Linked DNA regions of Homo sapiens. The protein of the gene in region 1 interacts with the protein of each later gene in a biochemical or structural test. Each region holds a gene or a part of one and is shown in the gene's direction. Other genes may lie near its edges.

What was found. The genes of interacting proteins can lie anywhere in the genome.
Region 2: the proteins of AP2B1 (region 1) and PPP6R1 interact in a surface display test, tested with the Homo sapiens proteins (one large-scale study listed by IntAct).
Region 3: the proteins of AP2B1 (region 1) and ZNF786 interact in a surface display test, tested with the Homo sapiens proteins (one large-scale study listed by IntAct).
Region 4: the proteins of AP2B1 (region 1) and NOTCH4 interact in a surface display test, tested with the Homo sapiens proteins (one large-scale study listed by IntAct).

What each region holds. Positions count from the first base shown.
Region 1 is NC_000017.11:35,589,383-35,595,190, forward strand, and holds part of AP2B1 (AP-2 complex subunit beta), read left to right. Parts: intron 1-4,625; 5' UTR 4,626-4,648; coding exon 4,649-4,685; intron 4,686-5,808. UniProt on the Homo sapiens protein: Component of the adaptor protein complex 2 (AP-2). Adaptor protein complexes function in protein transport via transport vesicles in different membrane traffic pathways.
Region 2 is NC_000019.10:55,249,018-55,253,671, reverse strand, and holds part of PPP6R1 (serine/threonine-protein phosphatase 6 regulatory subunit 1), read left to right. Parts: intron 1-80; exon of another isoform or gene 81-243; coding exon of another isoform or gene 244-246; intron 247-1,542; coding exon of another isoform or gene 1,543-1,578; intron 1,579-4,654. UniProt on the Homo sapiens protein: Regulatory subunit of protein phosphatase 6 (PP6). May function as a scaffolding PP6 subunit. Involved in the PP6-mediated dephosphorylation of NFKBIE opposing its degradation in response to TNF-alpha.
Region 3 is NC_000007.14:149,071,430-149,074,872, reverse strand, and holds part of ZNF786 (zinc finger protein 786), read left to right. Parts: intron 1-334; coding exon 335-487; intron 488-2,399; coding exon 2,400-3,443. UniProt on the Homo sapiens protein: May be involved in transcriptional regulation.
Region 4 is NC_000006.12:32,210,568-32,215,221, reverse strand, and holds part of NOTCH4 (neurogenic locus notch homolog protein 4 preproprotein), read left to right. Parts: intron 1-966; coding exon 967-1,112; intron 1,113-1,381; coding exon 1,382-1,534; intron 1,535-1,969; coding exon 1,970-2,087; intron 2,088-2,310; coding exon 2,311-2,398; intron 2,399-2,594; coding exon 2,595-2,748; intron 2,749-4,285; coding exon 4,286-4,470; intron 4,471-4,654. UniProt on the Homo sapiens protein: Functions as a receptor for membrane-bound ligands Jagged1, Jagged2 and Delta1 to regulate cell-fate determination.

The sequences.
Region 1 (5,808 bases):
AGTGACTTTACAAACTAATTTAGCTTCCCAGAGAGCCATTTGAATTAAGACCCTATTAATTTTTTTCTGACCTTATTCTACCCAAGGTATTAATCTTATTTTGCTGCTCAGTTTCTCTTTTGGGGAACTGGAGGGAGATATAGGAGAGGAGGGACTTTGACAACCTATATTTGGTAGAAACTAGGTTATGTTAAATCTGGATATATAGTCCTGTGCAGGGAGGCCTTCTCCGAAATGCAGTGACATCACACTCTGGTCGAGGGCAAGTAAGAGTGATTATGTGCTTTGACTCTGGCAGCTTTGTTGTTTAACAGTGGCCTTAGGCCATACCGTAAATCCTCAGAACAGCCGTTACTTGTCTGGTTTGATCTGGTAGAAAGGTAGTGTGAGTTCAAATTCCATCATGGCTTTGCTTATTTCTCTGGCTCTTCTGAAGGAACATTTTCTCCCCCCATAGGAGCAGCTTGATTTTTGAGGCACTTCAGCAAATATTAGATTTTTTTTTTCTTTAGCTCTATTTTGTTTACTTTTTCTGTAACTTCTTTTTTTTTTTTTTTTTTTGAGACGGAGTCTCACTCTTTCGCCCAGGCTGGAGTGCAGTGGCGCGATCTCGGCTCACTGCAAGCTCTGCCTCCTGGGTTCACACCATTCTCCTGTCTCAGCTTCCCGAGTAGCTGGGACTACAGGCGCCCGCCACACGCCTGGCTAATTTTTTGTATTTTTAGTAGAGACAGGGTTTCACCGTGTTAGCCAGGATGGTCTCGATCTCCTGACCTTGTGATCCGCCCGCCTCCCAAAGTGCTGGGATTACAGGCGTGAGCCACCGCGACCGGCTGTAACTTCTAATGAAGACGTCAGTTTTTGCCATCCTGTATTTTGGAGACTCTGGCTATGTCCATATCTAGCATGTGATTAAGTGTATCTCTCATTATATGAGGTGAGAACTCATTATATGAGAGATACACTGAATCATATATATATGTGATTTTTTTTTGAGGTGAAATTCACGTACCATAAAATTAACCAGGTTAAGGCATACAGTTCAGTGGCATTTAGTACACTGACAGTGTTGTGCAACAATCATGTCTTCTGATTTGTTTTTATTTACACTATTTTCATTTTTCTTGGAGTTTCTTTTGGCTTAAGGCAAGAACCAGCTTGGCACCATGTTTCTCTGCCAATATGGTTAGGGAATATTTTGTTACTATTGTTTACAATATGGTTACTAGAGTGATATCCCTTCTCTTTAGAGCAGCAGGGACTCTTAATTTAGAATCTATCTTATAGGCTTCTAAAGATACTTGACCCTCCTCTCTTCCCTGAAATTTTGTGGGTGGGTGCATTATTTTCTAGTTAAGACAAGAACACTTAATGCTCACAGTGAACAGGATAGTAATATATTCCTTGACATTGAAATTGTTAGGGGAGATAATGAAATATGTGAGCTACTGATAAAGGTATGACTTAAGACTTAGGTTAATTTATTGTTTAATAGAATGTAGTGAAAATGCCTGTTAAGAATTTACTCATGCCTGTAATCCCAGCACTTTGGGAGGCCGAGGTGGATGGATAACTTGATGTCAGGAGTTCCAGACCAGCCTGGCTAACAAGGAAAAACCCTGTCTCTACTAAAATACAAAAATTAGCTGGGCGTGGTAGTGGGTGCCTGTAGTCCCAGCTACTCTGAAGGCTAAGGCAGGAGAATCACTTGAACCTGGGAGGCAAAGGTTGGAGTGAGCCCAAATTGAACCACTGCACTGGAGCCTGGGCCACAGTGAGATTTTGTCTCAAAAAAAAAAAAAAAAAAAAAAGAATTTAATGGGCTGGGCACGGTGATCCCAACATGTAGTCCCAGCTACTCGGGAGGCTGAGGCAGGAGGATTGCTTGAGCCCAGAAGGCAGATGTTGCAGTGAGTCCCAGCTGGGACTACAGGCATGTGCTACCATGCCCGGCTAATTTTTGTATTTTTATTAGAGACGGAGTTTCGCCACGTTCCCCAGACTGGTCTCGATCTCCTGAGCTCAAGCCATCCGCACGCCTCGTCCTCCCAAAGTGTTGGGATTACAGGCGTGAGCCACCGTGCCTGGCCAAAAAAAATTTAATATGTGTATGTATAAGAGGCTTTTCAGAGAAATTGGGTGACAAATTCTAAGGAGGTTTTGTTTTAAAATCTTAAACAAGTTTTAAAGGACATAGCATAGCATAGTAAATATCCTAGACAGATTGTAATGGATTTGAGCTATAGTCCTTCTTTGAGGCTCAAGTAATCGTTTCTGTTTACTGGTTTTTCTGTTTGTATATATACATTCATAAATAACTTCAGATTTATTCCAGGTCTTTTATGTGAAGAATTCCTTTCTTCATTTGCCCACTTCACATTTAGTTTACATTATGAATGGACTAAATGATTATAACATTCTTTGAATTTTTGCTAGAAACACATTGTAAAAACATTGCATAAGGCAAGCTTCAGTATAATTTTTAATTATAACAAGTATTAAAGGAGAAATTTCTATATTCTGTAATGATATTTGTGAGTCCTAGCTCACTTCTTTTAACAAGATCATTCTGTGAATTTCTGGTACAATCTAAAGAGCTATTAGGATCAAGACTATAAATAGTAATTAGCTGGTTGGAAAGATAGCAAATGAGTCTAATTTCCATTAAACTGTACAAGTAGCACGTTTTAGAGATCAGATTTGAACCAGAAGTTTTTCATTATTTTATGTTTATCTGGCTCTTTTTTCTTTTCTTTAATTACATTGATTTGTTTGGTGCTTAGGTCTTTTCTCCTAGATCCATATTTACTATTGTTTGCCAAATACATTATGTCATATTGACCTGATAATAATGAGCAGGTGCCAGCATGTCTTGTCCTGAAGTTGGTGATAAGTATTATTAGTGATGGTGATAAGGAAAAAGATACTCATTTTGAGTACAGAAGGAATATTATTAAAAAATATATGTATATTTATATATTTTTTTCCCCTTGAGACAAGGTCTCTGTCGCTGAGGCTGGAGTGCAGTGGTGAGATCATAGCTCCCTGTAGCCTTGATCTCCTAAGCTCAAGCGATCCACACACCTCAGCCTCCCAAGTAGCTGAGACTACAGGTACATGCCACCATGCCTGAGCCACCGCGCCTGGCCCAAATTCCTATTTATTTATTTATTTATTTGAGATGGACTTTTGCTCTGTTGCCCAGGCTGGAGTGCAGTGGCGTGATCTCGGCTTACTGCAGCTTCCGCCTCCCAGGTCCAAGCGATTCTCCTGCCTCAGCCTCCCAAGTAGCTGGGATTAAAGGCACGTGCCACCATGCCCAGCTAAATTTTGTATTTTTAGCAGAGACAGGATTTCACCATGTTGGCGAGGCTGGTCTTGAACTCCTGACCTCAAGTGATCCACCCGGCAGCCTCACAAAGTGCTGGGATTACAGGCGTGAGCTACTGTGCCTGGCCCCAAAATTTTAATATATTTAAAGAAGTCTGGTACATTGGACAAAGTCTTATAGTTTCTCAAATCAGAAAAAGTAGTCTTATTATTTAGTAAAAATGTGACCAGACTGTGCCGTTTTTGTTAGTAGAGCCATTTGTCATCTGGATTACTTCTTCTGGAAATTGGGATGGAAGAGTTAAGGTTGAGGTTGAGATCCACGTTCTTTTGTTTCAACACCAGTTTGATTCTCGTGTCTGAACGGATGTCTCAGTCTTTTGCCTTGTTTTTAACTATAAACTGGCATTATTTGGGAATACTCTTGGGCTAAATCTGGATTGTTGGAAGTAAGAAAGCCACATTTTTTTTTAAATCCAAAAATATAGTTAGATACAATGAATAAGATCTAGTATTTGATAGCACAAAAGGGTGACTGCGGTCAACAATAATTTACTGTACATTTAAAAATAACTAAAAGAATGTAATTGAATTGTTTATAATACAAAGAAAGGATAAATGCTTGAGGTGATGGATATCCCATTTACACTAATGTAATTATTATGCATTGTCTGCCTGTTATCAAAATATCTCATGTACCTATACGCACCTACTAAATACCCACAAAACTAAAAATTAAAAAAATTCCATGCATAAGTCATGGTTGCCTCTCTAGATGTTTGTTGTGAAAGAATATTGTCCTACTAATTTTGAATTTTTTTTTTCTGAAAGAGATTCTTTTTATTGAAAGTTTCATGTCATAGATCGGCAAAATTGTTTTTTCTTTTGACCTTACACTGCTTCAGAATATATGTTTTGGAGTGATTCCAGCTTGAGGCAAGGAAGTTACCAGATTTTCCTGAATGGAAAGTAATTGCAGATATATTTATAAAAAGGTCCAGCTTTAGCTCTTGAAAGCTTTGAGGAGTTACTGTGGATAAAATCACAAAGCCATAATAGGTTCATACTTTTACCCAGTTGCATTTGGCCTTTAGATTTTTGCCCCATTAGCTTGAGGAGTTACATTCTTAGTTTTTCTTGAACCATCAACGGTGGTGATAAAGGAAGATGATACTCATTTTTAGAAATTCTTAAATATAAGTGTTCCTAAAATTAATTGGATGTTCTTAAAATTAATTGGATGCCTTGTTGGATATCTATAACCTGAATGAAGGAATTCTTTTCTCTTGCTATAGGTGCACATTAAAGATCCAAAGTCATGACTGACTCCAAGTATTTCACAACCAATAAAAAAGGTAAGTATGAGAATACAATCAAATCTTTTGAAATTTTCAAAAGTTGTAGTGTAAGATTGCCCCAGGCAGAATGCTGCTGACCTCTTCCTTCAGACATACATGTAGCTGACAATCTCACTGGACATCTACTACTTCTATAGATGAATGTATTCAAGCAAGTTATTAAAGAGTAGGTTTTAAAAGAGAGGGCTGTGATGCACATTATTATGACTTGAAGGTTCTGTTTAGTGAAAGAGACTCCTCTTTGCTGTTTGAGATGATCCATTGGAGATTGGTTAAGTGTGAGGAGGACAAAAGAAGCAGCATACTTTTTCCCTTTTATTAAATAATTTTTACTTGGAAATAAACATTTTATAACAAAGAATACAATTAAAGCAATACAGATATGTATGTAAAAGGTAAAAATGAAAGTTCTCCCTTCCTGTTCCTATTCCCAAGGGAACTTGGTGTATATCCTCAAGTCTTTTTCTCTGCATATGAGTGCATATATTAATACATATGATTTAAAATTTTTTTATCTTTAATGAAAAAGCAATCTTGCAAAACAATGAATAGAAATGAGTTATTTTCATATCCGTCCATATACATCTACCATGTTCTTCGTCTAGATGTATATTTAAAACGGAATCTCTAGAGCCATCTATGGTTTTTAGGTCATAGACGGAATTACTTGAGGGACTTTGCACTTATTACTCTCATCATCTTTGTTATCAGTAATATAATGCTTGTTTTTACCTATGAGTTTGGGTCTAGGAACAAAGGATTCTTCTGGGGAAAGTCCAACCCTTCATCTTTTGTAAAATTGTTCCTAAATAAAATAGATCATTTCTAGAAATGTGGAGGGTCTTCCCATCAAAGACAAACATTTTAGCCCATCTCAGCTTATTGTGCCTGTAGCTTAGCTTGCTTTATTTGTTGCTTAGGATCAGAATTCTGTGCTTTTGTGTTCAGGAGTCCTTACATTTACCAAAGTATTCCAGACATGGCGCCAACTACCATTCTTCTTTTTCTCTTGTTGCAGTGAGTTGCTTAATTATGTCAGTTTGTTGTCTGTAGCTTTCAGTCTTGGCAACACATCAGAATTGCTCAGCCAGGGAACTTTGAAATAATACTGATGCCTGGG
Region 2 (4,654 bases), on another chromosome or scaffold:
AGCCTGATAATTGAGGTCTGTAGAGTGTCGACCACTCAATTGCATTTGAGCCTTTCAGTCTATTCTGATTTTCAGAGGAGCCACTTGAGATGGAGAGTTCAGGGCGCTGCCTGGGTTCTCAGGGCCGAAGTTCTTGGATGCCGTGCACCAGCGAGCACCCTCCCGTCTCATTCTGGCTGCCCCTGCCCCAGTTGTCTGGGGAGCTCGGTTTGGAGGGGAAGCCTGACCTTTTCCCCGAAGCAGATGGTTAGTCTGTACCAGGGGTAGGGGGTTTGGGGGCCGAGGGCCATGCCTGTGCCCTTTAATCAGGTATCTTAGAAGTGAACGGTGGGCCTCAGTGTGAGAATTTCTGCCTGTTGTTTAGAGACCAGGGCACACTGGAAGCCTCTTGCTAGCCATGTGGCTCCACCCCTCTGGGCCCCTCTTCCACATGAGACTCTGTCGGAATAATAAGAATTCTTTACTTGGTCTTGATGTGGAGCCGAGACAAGTGTCTCTGCAAGTGCGGGTCCATGGATTTTCTACAGATGCTGGCTTGGTGCTGCTCCTATCCCGTCCCCACTGTGGAGGGGCTCACTTAGCTTAGAGCTGTTGGTGGTGAGGGATGGGGAAGGGGTAACCTGGGTGAGTGCCCCAGGGCTGAGCCTTGGCAGCTTCAGCTCTGCCAGGCTGGCCGGCATCTCATCAGCTCTGCGGACGCTGGGACATAGTGCAAGGCCTGAGCCTGGCCCTGGCTCTGTCCCTGCCATGGCCGATGGCCTGAGGCAGGTTTTTTTTTTTCCCCCAACAGTTTTTATTGAGATATTCTGTACAGTTCATCCATTTAGAGTGTACAGCCAGGCGCAGTGGCTCACGCCTGTAAGCCCAGCACTTTGGGAGGCCGAGGCAGGCAGATCACTTGAGGTCAGGCATTCAAGACCAGCCTGGCCAACGTGGTGAAACCCCGTCTGTACTAAAAAAATGCAAAAATTAGGCCGGGCGTGGTGATTCATGCCTGTAATCCCAGTGCTTTGGGAGGCCCAGGCAGGCGGATCACAAGGTCAGTAGTTCGAGACCAGCCTGGCCAATATGGTGAAACCCCGTCTTTACTAAAAAAACACACACAAAAATTAGCTGGGTGTGGTGGCGCACTCCTGTAATCCCAGGTACTCAGGCTGAGGTGGGAGAATTGCTTAAAACCGGGAGGCGGAGATTGCAGTGAGCCGAGATCGCGCCGCTGCACTCCAGCCTGGGTGACAGAGCGAAACTCTGTCTCAAAAAAAAAAAAAAAAAAAATCAGCCAAGAATGGTGGTGCGCACCTGTAGTCCCCACTACTCGGGAGGCTGAGGCAGGAGATATGCTTGAACCCAGGAGCTGGAGGTTGCGGTGAGCCGAGATCGCGCCACTGCACTCCAGGCTGGGTGACAGAGAGAGACTCTGTCTCAAGAAAAAAAATAATAAATAAAGGGTACAATTCAGTGGTTCTTAGTGTATTCACAACGTTGTGGAAACATCACCACAATTGATTTTGGAACTTTTTTTTAATCACCCTTTCCTTTCAGGAACTTCGCCCAATCCCCGCCAGCTCCTGGAAGCCTGTAAGCTCTTTTCTGTCTCTATGGATTTGCCTGTTCTGGATGCTTCACATAGTTGGAGGCCTGCAGTGTGTGGTTCCTTGGGACTGGCTTTGCTGGCATGGCATGGGCAGCCTATCAGCCTGCTTGGTCTCCCACGGAGAAAGAGGCTGTGTGTGTGTGCTTGCCACGTCTCGGTGCTTTGCTCGCCACAGCCTTAGGCCGGAAATTGGCAGAGTCATGATAAATTTGGCGGTTGCCCCTTGAGATTATTCTGGTCCCAGGTACACCCAGATCAGGAAATCCATTCCCCCTCCCGCTTCCCTCAGCACGCTGGTGAGTCACCTTTGCTGAGCCTGAGTTTTCTCATCTGTGACATGGACACTTGGTGGTCGGCCTGTCGCATTCCTTGTCAAGCGGGCTGGGAAGTAGGGGATGGTCCCTTGAGGAGGTCTAGCATCTGGGCAGAAGTGGGGAGGTGGGGAGTTACCACTGTGCACACAGAGGTTCCCGGAGCAAGGAAGGGAAACAGTTGTATTTCCTTGTGAGGTGGTGGTGCCTTCGTCACTCTTGACACAGGGGAAAATACACACCCATTGCCTGCCCAGGGCGATCTTGCACTTTCCCCCACCTCCTGATTTAGGGACCCCGTAGGAGTGGCTGGGAGGGGCCGGAGTGGGAGTGATTTCACTTCGTCTAACGCCCTGACAGGTACGGCAGCCTCCTGCCTGGGAGGAGCTGGGGCCTTGTGAAAATGAGGTTTGCTTTTCAGCTAATACTTGTGAGCGTTTATTGCCAGGGCCAGGTTCCATGCTAGGTGCTGCCCTCAGGTGCCCATGGTAACCTAGGGGGAAGGTTCTAGAGGAAGCATTGTAGGGCCACGAGTGTGTACCTCCAGTGCTTCATTGCTGTGTCACAGAGATGCTTCCAGGCGGCAGGTCAGAACGCACAGCTCAGGGAGACAGGGAGACAGTGGTGGACAAAGGCGGGGCTGGGGGCTGCTTGAGCCAGGCAGGCCAGGGAAGGCCCTTCTGTGAGGTGAATGCTTAGTAAGAGATCTGAGGATGAGAAAGTGAGTTATTAGGACAAAGTCGCTGGGGTAGACCCAAGCTTAGTGTGTTCTGAAAACAGAAGGCCAGCTTGGCCAGGGCAAGTAGGGAGTGGGAGGTCATTGAGGGTCCCAGGCGCTGACCCGATGAGAGGGCGGTTCTGATTTTCCCTTCAGCAAGCTCTGCATGGCTGTGGGGAGAGGGAACGAGCAGGGGTCGCCTGCGGTCGAGTGTGGGGGGCCTGCCGTCAAGTGGTGGTCATGCAGGCAGAAGGGGTGGGATGGTTATGTTTGGGGAGGTCAGCGGTGCCTGGGTCGGGGTGGGAGGCCTGATAAGTCCCTAGATTTCTGGTGGTGCTGGGTTGGAGGAGAACTCAGGCCTCTGGCCGAACTGTGCTGTCACAGCTGGGCTGGGAGGGTCCTGAGGACCACAGCCCTCCATCCTGAATCCAGGGATGTCTGTTGAGTAAGCACTAGCAGCTGGGGACAAGGTGGACAGGGAGTTTACCATCCAGACAGGTCCCTTCAGGGTGGGCCTGGAAATGGCAGGCTCCTCCCTGAGGTGAGAGTCGGGGTCACTGTGGCCAGGGCTAGTCCCTCAGGCAGAGCAAGTGCTGGAGCCGGCTCAGCGGGAACTCGCTCATTCATCCCTTAAGTGTCCACTACACAGGCCCTGTGCTGGGACAAGGGCTCTGCACCCTGAAAATACAACTTCTGAAAGCTGAGAGTGCCAGCTTCACTGCCCGCCAACCCCTGGATCGGGGCATAGGCATTTACTTTGGTGTGCCTCAGTTTCCTCTCCTGTAAAATAAGGCCATTCCCTGGAGGGTGGTTGTGAGAGTTGGTGGAGGTGATGGCTGTGAAGTCCTTTTCAGAGTAGTCAGCGCAGTGCAGGTGCTGGAGCGCAGTGGCTGATACCATCGACATCATTGCCTGGAATGCCCCCATCCACCCAGACCCGCAGGGCCTCCTGGATATCCATCCAGCACTGTGCCTCAGGCAGCCACGGGCTGTGCAGGAGACACCTGAAGTGGCAGCCCCAGGAGCACTGGCGAGGTGGCATGGGGCACGGCCTCCCCAGGGCACTGGGGTCACCGTGGGCATGGAGGTCAGTCAGTGAGCTGGCTGGGCAGGGGCACGAGAGCCTGGATGCAGGCTTGGTGGAGTGCACATCACCGAGCAGGTGCGGGTACTCATGTTTGTGCTTTAAAAGGATTTTTTTTTTTTTCCGAGACAGAGTGTTGCTCTGCCACCCAGGCTGGAGTGCAGTGGCGCAATCTCGACTCACTGCAACCTCCGCTCCCGGGTTCAGGCAGTTCTCCTGCCTCAGCCTCCCGAGTAGCTGGGACTATAGGCACACACCACCATGCCCGGCTAATTTTTGTATTTTTAGTAGACACGGGGTTTCATCATGTTGGCCAGACTGGTGTCAAACTCCTGACCCCGGGTGATCTGCCTGCCTGGGCCTCCCAAAGTGCTGGGATTATAGGCGTGAGCCACCACACCCAACCTTAGAAGGAATATTGGGAGTCTGGGCATGGTGGCTCATGCCTGTAATCCCAACACTTTGAGAGGCCCAGGTGGGCGGATCACCTGAGGTTAGGAGTTCAAGGCCAGCCTGGCTAACGTGGTGAAATCCCATCTCTACCAAAATAGAAAAATTAGCCGGGTGTGGTGGCAGATGCTTGTAGTACCAGCTACTAGGGAGGTTGAGGCGGAAGAATCGCCTGAACCCGGGAGGTGAAGGTTGAGGTGAACCTAGATTGTGCCACTGCATTCCAGCCTGGGCAACAGAGTGAGACTCCTCAAAAACAAAGGATTATTGGGAAAAGTGGACTGGTGAGGGGTAAGTGGTGAGTCACTGGGTGCTGTGGACTGGGACCTGGCAGGCCCCCCAGAGGAGCAGGGGTTCAAATGCCTGGAGGCTGCTGCTATCTCCCCTAGTCCTCCTGCTGCCGCCATGACTGTCGTTGGTCACGGAACTCTTCCCTCTGCTCCACCCTCAACTGTCATTGGCCAGGTGTAGGGACCCATATAGTGTTATATCAAGAT
Region 3 (3,443 bases), on another chromosome or scaffold:
GTGAGAACCCATCTCAAAAAATAAATAATTAATTTTAAAAATATATATATATATATAGCATTAGCCATTTTGTTTTTGGACAAAATACAGCATTGCTAAATGTGTGGGGAACATGACAAAATTAAAACAACATACCTGATCTAACATGCCCAGACAGACTAGGAGGCATTGTTAGGATGTGTAGGCGGTTTTTTCATCTTTGTGTAAACCTGTTTTTTTTTTTTTGACATGTTGTTCTCATACTTTGTCCCAGGAGTGAATGTTGAGAAATTTAGAAACTTAGTGTGCTTTAAATTCAGGAAGCCAAACTACCCTGTCTGACTTCTCTGTGCAGATGATGGACTTCCAAAACCAGAACTAATATCCTGGATTGAACACGGGGGAGAGCCCTTCAGGAAATGGAGAGAATCACAGAAATCAGGAAACATAATTTGCTCCTCTGTTGATATGCATTTTGATCCAGGTTTTGAGGAACAGCTGTTTTGGGGTGAGTATTAAGAAATCAGGGCCCCGACCTTGAGACATCATGTTCAGATTTGTTTCTCTTCTCTGATCTTGTCATCCTGTTTGGGCAAGCTGAGGTTTGAAGACTCTTATCTTCTAGATAAAGGCAGTAAAGCATAATGGTTAGGAATGTGGGTTCTAGAGTCTGTGTCTGGATCTTGCTTTTTCTTGGTGACCTTGGGCAAGTTATTGAACCTTTTGGTATTTCAATGCCTGATCTATAAAATGAAAGTACCCATGTTAACAGGATTGAATTGGTTAATATATATAGTGTTAGGCCAGGCATGGTGGCTCAGGCCTGTAATCCCAGCACTTTGGGTGGCCGAGGCGGGCAGATCACTTGAGGTCAGAAGTTCCAGACCAGCCTGGCCAACATGGTGAAACCCTTACTCTACTAAAAATACAAAAAAATTAGCCGGGCATGGTGGCAGGTGCCTGTAATCCCAGCTACTCAGGAGGCTGAGGGAGAAGAATTGCTTGAACCTGGGAGGCAGAGCTTGCAGTGAATGAGCTGAGATTATGCAACTGCACTCCAGCCTGGGCGATGGAGCAAGTCTCAGTCTCAAAAAAAAAACTATATATATATACATATATATATATATATATATATATATATATATACACACACACACACACACACACACGCACACATATACACACACACGTGTATATACATATGTATATAAATGTATACATAAATATATGTGTATATATGTATACATATATATGTGTATATATATTGAGAGACAGTTTATATAGTAAGAACTCAGTAGAAACTGGTTATCCAGTTTGTTTGGTTTTTAAGACACAGGATCTTGCTCTGTCACCCAGGCTGGAGCACAGTAGCATGATCATAGCTCACTGCAGTCTTGAACTCCTGGCTTCCAGCAGTCCTGGCCTCAAGCAGTCCTCCCACCTCAGCCTCCCAAAGTGTTGGGATTATAGGTGTGAGCCACCATGCCTGGCCCATGGTTATCCAGATCTTCATGACTAACGTGGCTTCCTTCCTAACTAGAGACTGTTGTCTACTTGAATACTTCAACCTGAGCTCCTCTCTTTCATTTCTTGTCATGAGGAGAGAGTCTGAGATTTTTGGATTCTTAAAGTACAGAATGAAAAAGTCAAACAGGAGCATCATTTCAAGAAATCTTGTCAAATAGTTTTTGTTTTTAGGTGCTTCTTTCGAAAGTGAAGGTTTTTCCCCCACAAATTACTTAACTTTCTACCATCTATTAATTATTCCAAGAAACCTTCTTGAAACATTGGCAGAAATGGGGGCAGGGAGGGAGGAATAGGCCCAAGCCTTGCTGCCAGGTCTTAGAGACAGGATGGCTCAAGGATCACGTATAACTGTGGTATTGGTCAGGGCTCCAGCTCGGGACTCCAGGTGTGTCTGTACATCAGAATGCGATACACTGGCTTTCCTGAAGTCATGAGAACAGCCAACACTTAAACAGAGTACATGCACTATGCCAGGCACCATGCTAAGCACCTCATGCACATTAGCTCATTTAATTCTCACAGTAATCTTATGTACTTTTGTTTCCATGTTTTTACAGAAGGAGCTGAAGTCAAAAGAGATTAGCTTGACAAAGGTTACACAGTGGACAGATAGGATTCAAAACTAGGCAGACTGATTCCAGAGCTTACACTCTATATTTGCGACCTATATTTTCCTTTTTTCAATATTATCCAAAGATATGTCTGTTCAGTTTAGTTTCAGCAGACTCACCAAACTCACGGCCATGAGACAGATCACACTGCATGGTTGGGTAGCTCAGTGGAAGCTGGGTTCCCAGGCCACCACAAGGCACTCTTGTGGGTCACTTGACTGTGAGAATCGCTAGTAGTGCTGCAGACAGGAATACCGACTGAATTTTTGTTTTCAATTGCAGGAAGCCAGCAGGCTATGAATTCAGGAAAAACTAAAAGCCATTTCCAATTAGATCCTGAAAGCCAGTGTTCCTTTGGATCCTTTGTTTCCTTCAGGCCTGACCAAGGCATCACCCTCGGGAGCCCACAGAGACACGACGCCAGGGCTCCTCCACCACTAGCCTGCGGCCCCAGTGAATCTACCCTAAAAGAAGGAATCCCAGGTCCCAGAAATCTGGATCTTCCTGGTTTGTGGGACGTCCCCGCCTGGGAGAGCACCCAGCACCCTTGGCCTGTCTGCGGGGAAAGCTGTTGGGAGAACAACCATTTAGTAATGCACCAGAGAGGCCACTCAAAGGACCGGACACGTAGGGCCTGGGAGAAATTCAACAAGAGGGCGGAGACGCAGATGCCGTGGAGCAGCCCTCGGGTACAGAGGCACTTCCGGTGTGGCGTGTGCGGTAAGAGCTTCCGCCGGAAGCTGTGTCTGCTGCGCCATCTGGCGGCCCACACGGGGAGGGGCCCCTTCCGGAACGCTGACGGTGAAATGTGCTTCCGACACGAGCTGACCCATCCCAGCCACCGCCTCCCGCAGCAGGGGGAGAAGCCTGCCCAGTGCACCCCATGCGGCAAGCGCTCCCTCCCAGTGGACAGCACGCAGGCTCGCCGGTGCCAGCACAGCCGGGAGGGGCCGGCCTCTTGGAGAGAAGGCCGCGGGGCCTCCAGCAGTGTGCACTCGGGACAGAAACCAGGCTCGCGCCTGCCCCAGGAGGGGAACAGCCACCAGGAAGGGGACACGGAGGCGCTGCAGCATGGCGCAGAGGGGCCCTGCTCCTGCTCGGAGTGTGGCGAGCGCTCCCCTATGAGCGCCAGGCTCGCCAGCCCCTGCAGGGCGCATACTGGAGAAAAGCCCTTCCAGTGTGCGCATTGCACCAAGCGCTTCCGCCTGCGCCGCCTGCTGCAGGTCCACCAGCACGCGCACGGTGGGGAGAGACCGTTCTCCTGCAGGAAGTGTGGCAAGGGCTTCGCCAAGCAGTGTAAACTCACGGAGCACATTCGAGTCCACA
Region 4 (4,654 bases), on another chromosome or scaffold:
CATCTTCCAGACCCTCCCCATCTGCCCCCTCCTTTGGGCTCCCTTCGCTAGGACAGGAGAAGACAGCCAGTGAGATGTAGGTCTGTGAGAAATGACCAATGGGGAAAAGGAAGGAGATGGCAAAGTTCTTAGGGCAAGGCAGTGGGAGGGCTCAACTGGTAAGTGTTATCCAAGGAGAAGAGAGTCCACAAAAACTGGTGGAAACAGAGGACCAGGGGGTCAGAGCAGAAAGAAGAGCACTAAATCCCAGGGCGAATTAATCATTCATTAGAAAAATATCTGCTGAGGCCAGGCGCAGTGCTGATTACGGTCTCATGCCGGTAATCCCAGCACTTTGGGAGGCCGAGGTGGGCGGATCACCTGAGATCAGCAGTTCAACATCAGCCTGGCCAACATGGTGAAACCCTGTAGCTACTAAAAATGCAAAAATTAGCTGGGCATGGTGGCGCACCTGTAATCCCAGCTACTTGGGAGGCTGAAGCGGAAGGATCACTTGAACCCAAGAGGCGGAGGTTGCAGTCAGCCAAGATCATGCCACTGCACTCCAGCCTGGGTGACAGAGCAAGACTCCGTCTCAAAAAAAAAAAAAATCTGCTGAGCACCTACTTTGTGTGGCTACTGTTCCAGGCCCTGGGGGAAACACAAAGCAAAAGAGATAAAGCAACTGCTCTCGTAGAGCTTTCATTCTAAAGAAAGACAGAAAATAAGTAAGTTACAGAAAGAATATATATGTGTGTATATATATATATATATATCTCCAACTAGATATATAGATGCATATATCTAGTTGGAGAAAATGAGCAGGTGTTGGGGAGGATGGGGGCGGTGCTGAGAGCAAAGTCACTGAAGAAAGAGGCCAGAATCTCAGGGCCAAAAGAAGAGGAAGTCATAGGGGTCCAGGCAGCAGGGAGGGGAACATAAGCAGTAGGAGAAGAGAAAAACCCTCCCCTTTCTCTTTACAACCAGATCCTCATGTGTGTGTGACGTGGGTTGGACGGGGCCAGAGTGTGAGGCAGAGCTAGGGGGCTGCATCTCTGCACCCTGTGCCCATGGGGGGACCTGCTACCCCCAGCCCTCTGGCTACAACTGCACCTGCCCTACAGGCTACACAGGTGAGACCCTCCCTAAACCATATACACCCTGTGCTGGTCACCCCCTATGTCAAGGGTAAGGCAGGCGACCACGGGCCCTGAGTCTCAGTCACCACTAAGGAGAACTGGACTGCAGGGGACACGGGTGATGTGTGGGAGGTGGTGAGAACGGAGGTTGATGGGAAAGAATAATAGGGTTGGGGATGAGGAAGGGAAGGAAGAGGAAAGAGAAGGAGAGCGGAGGGAGGGAAGGAGGACACCCTTTCTCAGCCCCCACCTGTTTCCTTCAGGACCCACCTGTAGTGAGGAGATGACAGCTTGTCACTCAGGGCCATGTCTCAATGGCGGCTCCTGCAACCCTAGCCCTGGAGGCTACTACTGCACCTGCCCTCCAAGCCACACAGGGCCCCAGTGCCAAACCAGCACTGACTACTGTGTGTCTGGTGAGTGCCCACTGTGTCATGGGGCTGGGGTCCACAGGAGAATGGAAGAACTAAGGAGGGTATGCTTGTGTCATATTTTTTAAAATTTAATTGAACAGACCAGCCTGGGAAACATAATGAAACTCCATCTCTAAATTAGCTGGGCACACAGTGGCTAAGGCCTGTAGTCTCAAATACTTGGGAGGCTAAGGTGGGAGGATGACTTGAGCCCAGAAGGTTAAGACTGCAGTGAGCTCTGATGGCACCACTGCCTGGGTAACAGAGCAAGACCCTATCTAAAAACAATAAAATATCATATAAATAAAAATTAATTGGATGGCAGTGAGCTGTCGTTTTGATGGGGGTGGGGGGTGTATGTCCTATGTACAGTGTGACTGAGGTCACAGGCCAGGTTACAGGCAAGGAACCCAAACCCTCACAGCCTCCTCTCTCCAGCCCCGTGCTTCAATGGGGGTACCTGTGTGAACAGGCCTGGCACCTTCTCCTGCCTCTGTGCCATGGGCTTCCAGGGCCCGCGCTGTGAGGGAAAGCTCCGCCCCAGCTGTGCAGACAGGTGAGCAGGGCCCAAAGACCCCTAGAAGGGAGAAAACCCCTCAGCCTTCCCACCCCTCCTCTCATCTCCCCCTGGGTTCCAGGCTGCCTCCCACCCCACACCTCGTTCCGCCTTCCCTCCTGGCTTGCCACCTCCCTGTGGTTGCCTCCCGACAATATCACACACTACCTTCCCCTTGTTGCCCGAACTTCTTCCTATCATGCCCTGTCTCTGTCTTGTTCAGCCCCTGTAGGAATAGGGCAACCTGCCAGGACAGCCCTCAGGGTCCCCGCTGCCTCTGCCCCACTGGCTACACCGGAGGCAGCTGCCAGGTGAGGGCCATTGAAGTCAGGCGTGCTGAGGAGGGAAGTGGCTGGGAGGGAAACCAGGGAGGGTCACCTGGTCCCAGGCCATTCAGGAGAAGGTTTTTGAAGTAAGGGATTTCGAGGAGCTGGAGTGGGCAGAGGACCATCTCTGGGCTGAGAATCTGATGCTATGTCCTGCCTCACGCTCCCTCCCACCCCTCAGACTCTGATGGACTTATGTGCCCAGAAGCCCTGCCCACGCAATTCCCACTGCCTCCAGACTGGGCCCTCCTTCCACTGCTTGTGCCTCCAGGGATGGACCGGGCCTCTCTGCAACCTTCCACTGTCCTCCTGCCAGAAGGCTGCACTGAGCCAAGGTAACCAACGCCGGCACTGACTGGAGAGCAAATGAAGAAAATATGGGTGTTCTCACCTGCCCCGTTCCTGTGGGCTTCCACACAGCTTTTGGCCAAAACAACCATCTGAGAATCAAAACCACACAGACAAATCAGTTCTTGATTGCAGAGGTGTTGAATTGTGCAATCAGAGAAGCCTAACACAATTCCTGTTACCTCATTTAACGCAATTCAAGCAACACCAACCAGCCCATTCCACAGGATTCCAGTTTAACCCAACCATGAGGGACATGACTCAACGTGGAGCAACTCAACTCTGTCCTGATCATCATAACCCAGGCAGAGTGGACCACACTTAATCCAGCTACACTCAACGCATTTCACCCCACCCCACTCACTTCGATGTCACGCCACCCTCTTTGTAAAAGAACACTAAAATAAGGTTTGATATGAGAAGAGCTCGGGAAAGAGATTATGATGGAGTTAAGGGATAGCTGATGGGAATCACAGGGAGAGAACATTAAAGGAATGCAGAACTCAGGGGACAGACTTAAGCCACTTGTCCTCACTTGAGGCATACCTTGAATTATTTCTTGCTCAAGCCTTGCTTTAAGCCAAGAAAACAGTTGCTTTAACATTATGATAAGCTTTAGGGGTATGTCTCCAATATTCTGGCAGAAAGGGTGAGGAGAGAGGTAAAACTCGATGGTCTAATTTCTTCAGTGCCAGGAGTTATTAACTCCTTGGGCCCAGACCAGTCTCCACCCAGGAATGTTAGTGGTCCCCAAGGTAAAGGCCTCTACACCCAGAGATTGGGCCCTGAATACACCCTTCCTCCTCCTCACATACCTTATTTATTTATTTATTTATTTATTTATTTATTTATTTATTTATTTATTTTTGAGATGGAGTCCCAGTCTGTCACCCAGGGTGGAGTGCAGTGGCACGATCTCGGCTCACTGCAACCTTCACCTCCTAGGTTCAAGTGATTCTCCTGCCTCAGCTTCCCAAGTAGCTGGGATTCGTGTGCCACCATGCCCAGCTAATTTTTTTTTTTTTGTATTTTTAGTAGAGATGGGGTTTCATTATGTTGGCCAGACTGGTCTCGAACTCCTAACCTCAGTGATCCACCCGTCTCAGCCTCCCAAAGTGCTGGAATTACAGGTGTGAGCCACCACGCCCGGCCACATCCCCATTTACCGTTTCTGTTTGTTTGTTTGTTTGTTTGTTTGTTTGAGATGGAGTCTTGCCCTATAGCCCAGGCTGGAGTGCAATGGCACGATTTTGGCTCACTACAACCTGCGCTGCCCAGGTTCAAGTGATTCTCCTGCCTCAGCCTCCCAAGTAGCTGGGATTACAGGTGCCTGCCACAACGCCCGACCAATTTTTTGTATTTTTAGTAGAGACGGGGTTTCCCCATGTTTGCCAGGCTGGTCTCACACTCCTAACCTGGTGATCCACCTGCCTCGGCCTCCCAAAGTGCTGGGATTACAGGCGTAAGCCATGGCGCCCGGCCCCCCACTTATCTTTGTATATCCCTGTTTGTCTCTCTCCCCAGGCATAGACGTCTCTTCCCTTTGCCACAATGGAGGCCTCTGTGTCGACAGCGGCCCCTCCTATTTCTGCCACTGCCCCCCTGGATTCCAAGGCAGCCTGTGCCAGGATCACGTGAACCCATGTGAGTCCAGGCCTTGCCAGAACGGGGCCACCTGCATGGCCCAGCCCAGTGGGTATCTCTGCCAGGTGAGAGGGTCTGCAGGAGAAGGGGGAGGAAAGACAAGGGTGGGCTGGATGGGAGAGACAGTAGTGACTGAGGGAAGACCCAATGTATCCATTTCACCTCCTTTTATTTTTTTTAACCCCACACACCCAACTAACCACAAAGTCATGCCACTTTATCTCCTGAAGTTTTCTCAAGTCTGTGCTT